Homo sapiens: one gene and its partner. The protein of the gene in region 1 purifies or fractionates together with the protein of each later gene. This does not show direct contact. Each region holds a gene or a part of one and is shown on either strand. Other genes may lie near its edges.

Region 1 (3,657 bases):
AGCCTTTATAAATACCCAGCACTGCTACACACACATACACACATGCACATATAGTTCTAGTGATGATTCTTCTAAGAAGATCACTATTTCTCCATCTTCAAATAAATTCTGAATGTATTAATTGAATGTGCATTCTGAACAATGCCCCACGGCCAATTAAAAAAGAAAGAATGAATGACTGTCTTGGTCTTTGTGCTATTAGGGAGATATATAGATGATGTTACAATACAAACTAGAGCATCTCGTGAAGTAGAAGAAAGTTCCTAAAAGCAATGGAATCTCAGACGTAGAGATGAATTCTAATTGGGTCGTTTAGAAAAAGCTTAATGAAAGAAACACGTCTGAATGGACTTTGAAGGATTTATTAGTCTTAATGTTTGTTGTACTAGAAGACAAGTGGATAATTTTTATTTGTCTCCTTTTTTTTTTTTTTGGCAGCTAACAGAGACCCCATAGTAAAAATCCTGGGCTCTGATTATAATACAATGAAAGAAAACTCAATTGCATTAAATATTCTTGGCAAAATTACCAGAGATGATGATCCTGAAAGTGAAATTAAGATGAAGATTGCTATGCTGCTTAAGCAATTGGATCTGCACCTCCTCAATCATTCTCTAAAACATATTTCATTGTGAGTCTTTTTCAAAAAGGAACCTCTATTGTATTGAGCCAAGATTGCACCACTGAACTCCAGCCTGGGTGACAGAGCAAGACTCTGTCTCAAAATAGATAGTTAAATAAATAATAAAATATTACAATTAAAATTAAAAAATTAAAAAGGAACCTTTAAAAATTAGTTACAAAGTTGCTTTCAGAGTTTTAGAAAAAAAGACACAAGAAAAGTAAAGTATGGAAGTTATTGCTATGGATTTAACTTTACATTTTATTGGAACAAACAATTTTCCTGGGATTCATTTATTCCAGTTCTAAAAATTAAAAATTGCAGGTGACATCACGAAAACATTCTGGTGGGGTTTCATGCAATTCTGAAGACATTAGGTGGTCTTGTTATTTTCAAATGCTCTCAAGACTATTACACAAATTATTAAATTATAATGCAGATATCATGTAGAGTTTGTATAGTCCAAAGCATGTTCATTTTCTAATATTTTTAGTGTTAGAATATTATCAGCATGAAATAAAGTGAATATTTAATGGAGTACGTTTAATGTTGCATTAAACATAAATCACTAATTACTTGATGTGTTGACAGTGCTGTTATAAAATTATAGCACGGCTAAAATTAACTGCAATTTTAATTACAAAAAAGATATTTCTCCTGATACAATGAAATGTGTTCATGTGTTTCCTAGATTCTGTTTAAAGTATTTAAGCTGACATTTTAAACATTTATTTCAGAGAAATAAGTTTAAGTCCCATGACGGTGAAGAAGGATATAGAACTGCTCAAACGTTTCTCAGGAAAAGGAAACCAAACAGTCTTGGAATCTATTGAATATACCTCAGGTTTGATGTTTTCTCAGGCTCATTTTATGTTATTTACATTTTCATAATTACATTTGCAAAATGCTTTCAATGTCTACATTACAAGAGAAGGTTTAAGAAGGGGAAAGCTTAAAATTTCCACAATATTTATTTTGTGGAAGCCAACACTTTTTACCAAACTCTAGGTTAAGGAACTCCTGTTAATTGCTTGATGATTGGTTTCAGATTATGAATTTTCAAATGGATGTCGAGCCCCACCGTGGAGACAAATTCGTGGGGAAATTTGTTATGTGCTGGTGAAACCTCACGATGGTGAGACTCTGTGCATTACTTGCAGTGCAGGAGGAGTATTTTTAAATGGTGTAAGTAAATTTTTAAAAACGTAACTAAAGCCAGTGGACTTTGATTGTTAGCTGTAGATGTCTCAAGGGTGTGTCCCAATGACCACAGAGAATGAATTACCATTCTGTGGGATAGAAGCAGATTCCTTTGATATATGCTTGCTGGGCAAATCCAAAATAGCTTCAGAATTAGCTCTCTTATTCTCCACTGCAGGTCATTAAGCCAATCTGATAAGAAATGGGCTTCAAAGTGACCCATTCCACTTTATAAATGTCTTTAACGTAATCACTTCACTGATTCATTACACAGCTTCCAAATGATAGAAAGGTCAAAAAAGAAACATTGAGATAATACAGATGTCATAACTGCAGCTTGCATCCTAAGAGTTGGAGGGACAAAGGGAAAGAGAGGGGCTTATCTAAATGTAGAAGGTAGGAGACAGTGCCCTATGAAGCTGGGACCCAGACCTCTTGGGAGGGTCCACTTCCAGGCTGTGCTGGTCCCCACAGAGTTCAGACCATCTCCATGAGGCAGGGCTCCAGATCTCTGAAGAGTGGGCACTGCCCAGTTAATGCTCATACCTCGGGAAGAGGATCCTTGTAGAGATGGCAGAGCTGGGACCTGGACCTTTGAAAATGGAGCACTGGATGACTGATAGTGATATTTCCCAGGGGGTGAGGTGAGCCTGTTTCTGGGACCGTGAAAAATCAACAAACCTGGAAACTGGAACCAACTGTTGCTACTGGAAGCAACTGCCACTGTGTGGAAAGAAGGGCCGTTGCTGGGGTGACTCTAACAGGGACAGTGGGCCAGCAGGAAGCAGCAGGTCCCTCCTCCCTCTGCCAGCCTTTCAGTCTTCCTTTAGCTGATTCTAATGACGGAGCCTAATAACCTAGCCTGGTGAAAGGAGAAATACGACATTGCAGATTCCTGCGTGAGTAGCACAAAGTAGAGGCTGGGTGGCTGGGCTTTGAGCTGAGTGATAAACAGCACACAGTGTTCTGGATTAAAACACTTTCAGTCTCATCCCTATTCACAGAACCAGCTAGAAGGAGCTTAGCTTTCACCTCTGCAACATCCTGCCCTCAGTATCTTCAACATAAATTTGGAACTCAGAAACAAAATTCTACAAGGAGGATCCAAGTCCTTAATGGGGACCCAGCCATCACGGGGGACTGCCTGGAGGGTTGTTACATGTTGGCTTGGGTTGGTACCAAAATGCTGGAGCCTCTTTTCTGATTACCTATAGTTATCTTTCTGACATGCCTTTTGGTGCTTTTCTTATTAGCATGACACTGAGCTCATTTCTACAAAGAGGCAGTAGACAAATAAGATTTTGCTTTGGTTTATGATATTTTAGAAAAACGAAATCTCTAATTAGGAATAAAGGGACAAAAGAAGGAATGATTTTCTTTGACCTTCTGGAGGGGGGCAGGGAGTCTTTATTTCTATCAAAGGTTATTATTGATCTACATACATATAACTTATTTAGCATGGAGATATCTAAGTATCCCTTTAAGTTTTAAAAAAATGAAAGACAAGGACCATAAAACTACTCAATAATTACAACAAAGTTTAAAACACACTGGTCATACGTATAGAAATGTTTTTGTGTATACAGTTATATATAACAAACTGCAGTTATATGTATTTATATACATATAGTTATGTGATGTGTGTATACATTATATATATATATTCTGTTATGGAAGAACAATAGAGGTAGGGAAGAAAAGGAAAATGAGGAAAGGAAAGAGACAAGAAGAGAGAGAGAGACACATGGGTGTGTGGACAGATCGTTACACAGAGATCTAGAAAATAAGCCTATAGCAACCATGCCACAGACAGAAGAACAGAGTGTGACAAACAG
Region 2 (3,613 bases), on another chromosome or scaffold:
TTTGTGTTTTCTTCTTATAAAATATTCATGCTTGTAATTGTGCCACACAGATAATTCATAGAGACTAATTTCAGTCACTTCAACGTTGGCATTGACTTATCAAATAAGCAATAACTAGGCAGTGTCAGTAACATCTGTTGACTCATCAAGAGCCAAGGAAAACCACTCAGGGTCATTTGCCTTGTTTTTTATTGACTGTTGATGTTGTTCCCAGTGTTCTCAATTCTTTAAGCAACCATTCTTGCCAAAAGGCTAATTTAATAGTCTTAAGTTTACTTTGGACACAGTCCTTCAGCCGATAGAATCAAACACAATTTAGTTATCGTTAGTAAAATGTTTTCCTTGCTTGGTTAACATCTGAGTCACTTTGGCTGCAACTTTATTTTCATTTTTGAGTTTGTTTTTTTTTTTTTTTGAGACTGAGTCTCATTCTTTTGCCCAGGCTGGAGTGCAGTGGCACAATCTCAGTTCACTGCAACCTCCACCCTGCAGGTTCAAGCGAGTCTCCTGCCTCAGCCTCCCAAGTAGCTGAGATTACAGGCACATGCCACCACACCTAACTAATTTTTATGTTTTTAGTAGAAATGGGGTTTTACCATGTTGTCCAGGCTGGTCTTGAACTCCTGACCTCAAGTGATCCACCCACTTCAGCCTCCCAAAATGCTTGGATTACAGGCATGAACCACTGCATCTGACCTCCCTATAGTATTCTTTAAGAACAGCTATAATGACATTGCATATTAAACATCATACTCTGACATCTAATCTGATTTTTAAAAATTCATATACTAATGTGCCTTAAAAATGTCACTTCAAGTCTACTTTTCTTTTTTTCTCTTGTTTTGATGTTATGGGTAAGCACTAGTAATAAAAAATTTAAAAATATTGTGGTATGACAACATATGTGGCACTCAAAATGCTGGTAACTGCATTACTGCAGTTTTTAGTGTGCCAAGTAGCAGTGCAAAATGATGACAGCACCACATAAGTCTCCTTTGCATTTGTTCAACTCTGCCATTCTAATGTGAAAGCAATCATAGACAGTACCTAAACGAATGAGTGTGGCCATGTTCCAATAAAATTTCATGAGCACTGAAAGTTGAATTTTACATAATTTTGATGTGTTACAAAATACTACTGTGTTAGCCATTAGATTTTTTCAGCCATTAGAAAATGTGAAACTGTTCTTATGAGCTGGCTGGATTTGGCTTGTGGACCAAATTTGTGACCCCTATTCCAGAGTATTTTCGAGTCAGTTAATCCATGTTTGCCCATTCCTAATTTTATAAACCACATTCAAACCTGTTAATTCGCTGTTATCATTCTCATTTTGCCATTTAGATTTTAAAATGAAGAGCAGTGTTTTGTTAGAAAAAACAAAATGTTTACCATAACAAGAAAGATGTGTAGACAAGAAAGATATTTATGTAGACTCTTTGTTTGTTAAATTTTGAAGCCAGGTGATGCATTGTTAGCTTTGACAACTGACTTAAATTTTTGTATAATTATTTATCTTTGCATTTTGCTCAGGTAAATTATCTTCCCAGAGTCTAGAAATAAAGATATCCCTGATCCTGTTTAAGAGCATAAATAATACTCTCAATGTAAATTGTTTTGAAATAAGATCTTAAAAATACAAAATGTAGACAATTAATATTCAGGTGCTTACTTTTGAGCCAATATGTAGCAGAGAAAAACTAATTTCTCTGTGGCAGTATTTTTATTTTTGGCATTTCCCAGGAATTAACTGAAGACTAAAACTCATATGTGAAGTGTAATGATACTAATCAAAGAGTCAGTAAAATTTCCATTTGGCTACCATGTATGTGTGTATATATTTATGTATGTATGTGTGTGTTACATATTTGAGACAGGGTCTCACTCTATTGCCCCAGGCTGGAGTGCAGTGGCATGATCTCAGCTTACTGCAGCCTCAGTCTCCCAGGCTCAAGCGATCCTCCCACCTCGGCCTCCCGAGTACCTGGGACTACAGACACCACCACACCTGGCTAATTTTTTTATTTTTTATAGAGACACAGTCTTTCCATGTTGCCTATGTTGGTCTTGAACTCCTGGGCTCAAATAATTTTCCCACCTTGGCCTCCTGTAGTGCTGGGATTACGGGCATAAGCCACTGTGTCAGGCCCCATGTATGTTAATAGTGAATGTTTGGCTTTTCATTTGTTACTTTCAGCTATTAAAGGATACCTATTACAGACACAGGAATTTACATTTTCAAAGTCATTTTTGACACATCAGTGCTGCATCTACTTTTCTCCTTTTAGCACATTTGATATTGATACTTCAGAGAAACTTTTTTAACTACCCTTAAAATCTTGTCAATGACCATTAACTGCCAATCATCACCTCATTTGCTTTTTTTGACAACATACTACTAGAAACCTAGGCTGTGAGTGTAAAACCATAACTGTTAGAATCATTTTTTTGGCAATAGCTCACATTCTGTTAAGAGTCATTTGCTTTAATCAAAGATCATGATTTATTATATATTTTTTATAAGTAGGGATGGGGCCAAGATTATTCCTTTGGCACAGCAGTAAGTGTGCTCAAGATCTTTGCCTGTAAGCTTGAATATTTGGCTTAAATTTTGTGCATATGAATACTGTTAAAGGTATATTTGACTACATTTTGAAAGGAAAAAGGTAGTCCTGCTAAAATTGACATTTAGGGATATTTTAATCTATGTATTTGGTAAAGTAATTAGTGAAGTATTAGTTATAAAAATTTTAAGGAAAACATTTAAAAGCAAAATAGTCGTATCAGATAAATAGAGTAGAATACACTAAAGATAAAACAAGTCTCTGTTACAAATGAAGTTGTCTGTACAGACGACTGAGATATTTTAATTTTATTTACATAAAAATGCTGTTCAATATCTAATGATTTCTGTTGTTTGTATTCTGTACTTTAGAGTAATAAAATAAGTTTGAGTATCTCATTAGTTCACTTTCAAAATTGATCATTTCAGGGCACTGCTGAATATAATGGAAGGTTTGGGTAAATAGGTTTGCGTCACAGCCCCTGTGAAATTACCAGCCTAGATGAGGAGCCATCCGCCTGTGTACAGAACTCTTTTTTTTTTTTTTTTCATTTCTCTCTCTATATATTTTTTATTATTATTATACTTTTAAGTTTTAGGGTACATGTGCACAATGTGCAGGTTAGTTACATATGTATACATGTGCCATGCTGGTGCGCTGCACCCGCTAACTCGTCATCTAGCATTAGGTATATCTCCTAATGCTATCCCTCCCCCCTCCCCCCACCCCACAACAGTCCCCAGAGTGTGATGTTCCCCTTCCTGTGTCCATGTGTTCTCATTGTTCAATTCCCACCTATAAGTGAGAATATGCGGTGTTTGGTTTTTTGTCCTTGCGATAGTTTACTGAGAATGATGATTTCCAATTTCATCCATGTCCCTACAAAGGACATGAACTCATCATTTTTTATGGCTGCATAGTATTCCATGGTGTATATGTGCCACATTTTCTTAATCCAGTCTATCATTGTTGGACATTTGGGTTGGTTCCAAGTCTTTGCTATTGTGAATAGTGCCGCAATAAACATACGTGTGCATGTGTCTTTATAGCAG

The links. Proteins that work in one complex are often made in the same cells at the same time.
Region 2: the proteins of ODAD2 (region 1) and FBXL4 purify together in Homo sapiens (affinity purification with mass spectrometry; one large-scale study listed by BioGRID and IntAct). This does not show direct contact.

The regions. Positions count from the first base shown.
Region 1 is NC_000010.11:27,981,993-27,985,649, reverse strand, and holds part of ODAD2 (outer dynein arm-docking complex subunit 2), read left to right. Parts: intron 1-438; coding exon 439-631; intron 632-1,359; coding exon 1,360-1,466; intron 1,467-1,670; coding exon 1,671-1,807; intron 1,808-2,368; exon of another isoform or gene 2,369-2,454; intron 2,455-2,639; exon of another isoform or gene 2,640-2,721; intron 2,722-3,657.
Region 2 is NC_000006.12:98,867,884-98,871,496, reverse strand, and holds the end of FBXL4 (F-box/LRR-repeat protein 4), read left to right. Parts: 3' UTR 1-2,962; downstream 2,963-3,613. UniProt on the Homo sapiens protein: Substrate-recognition component of the mitochondria-localized SCF-FBXL4 ubiquitin E3 ligase complex that plays a role in the restriction of mitophagy by controlling the degradation of BNIP3 and NIX mitophagy receptors.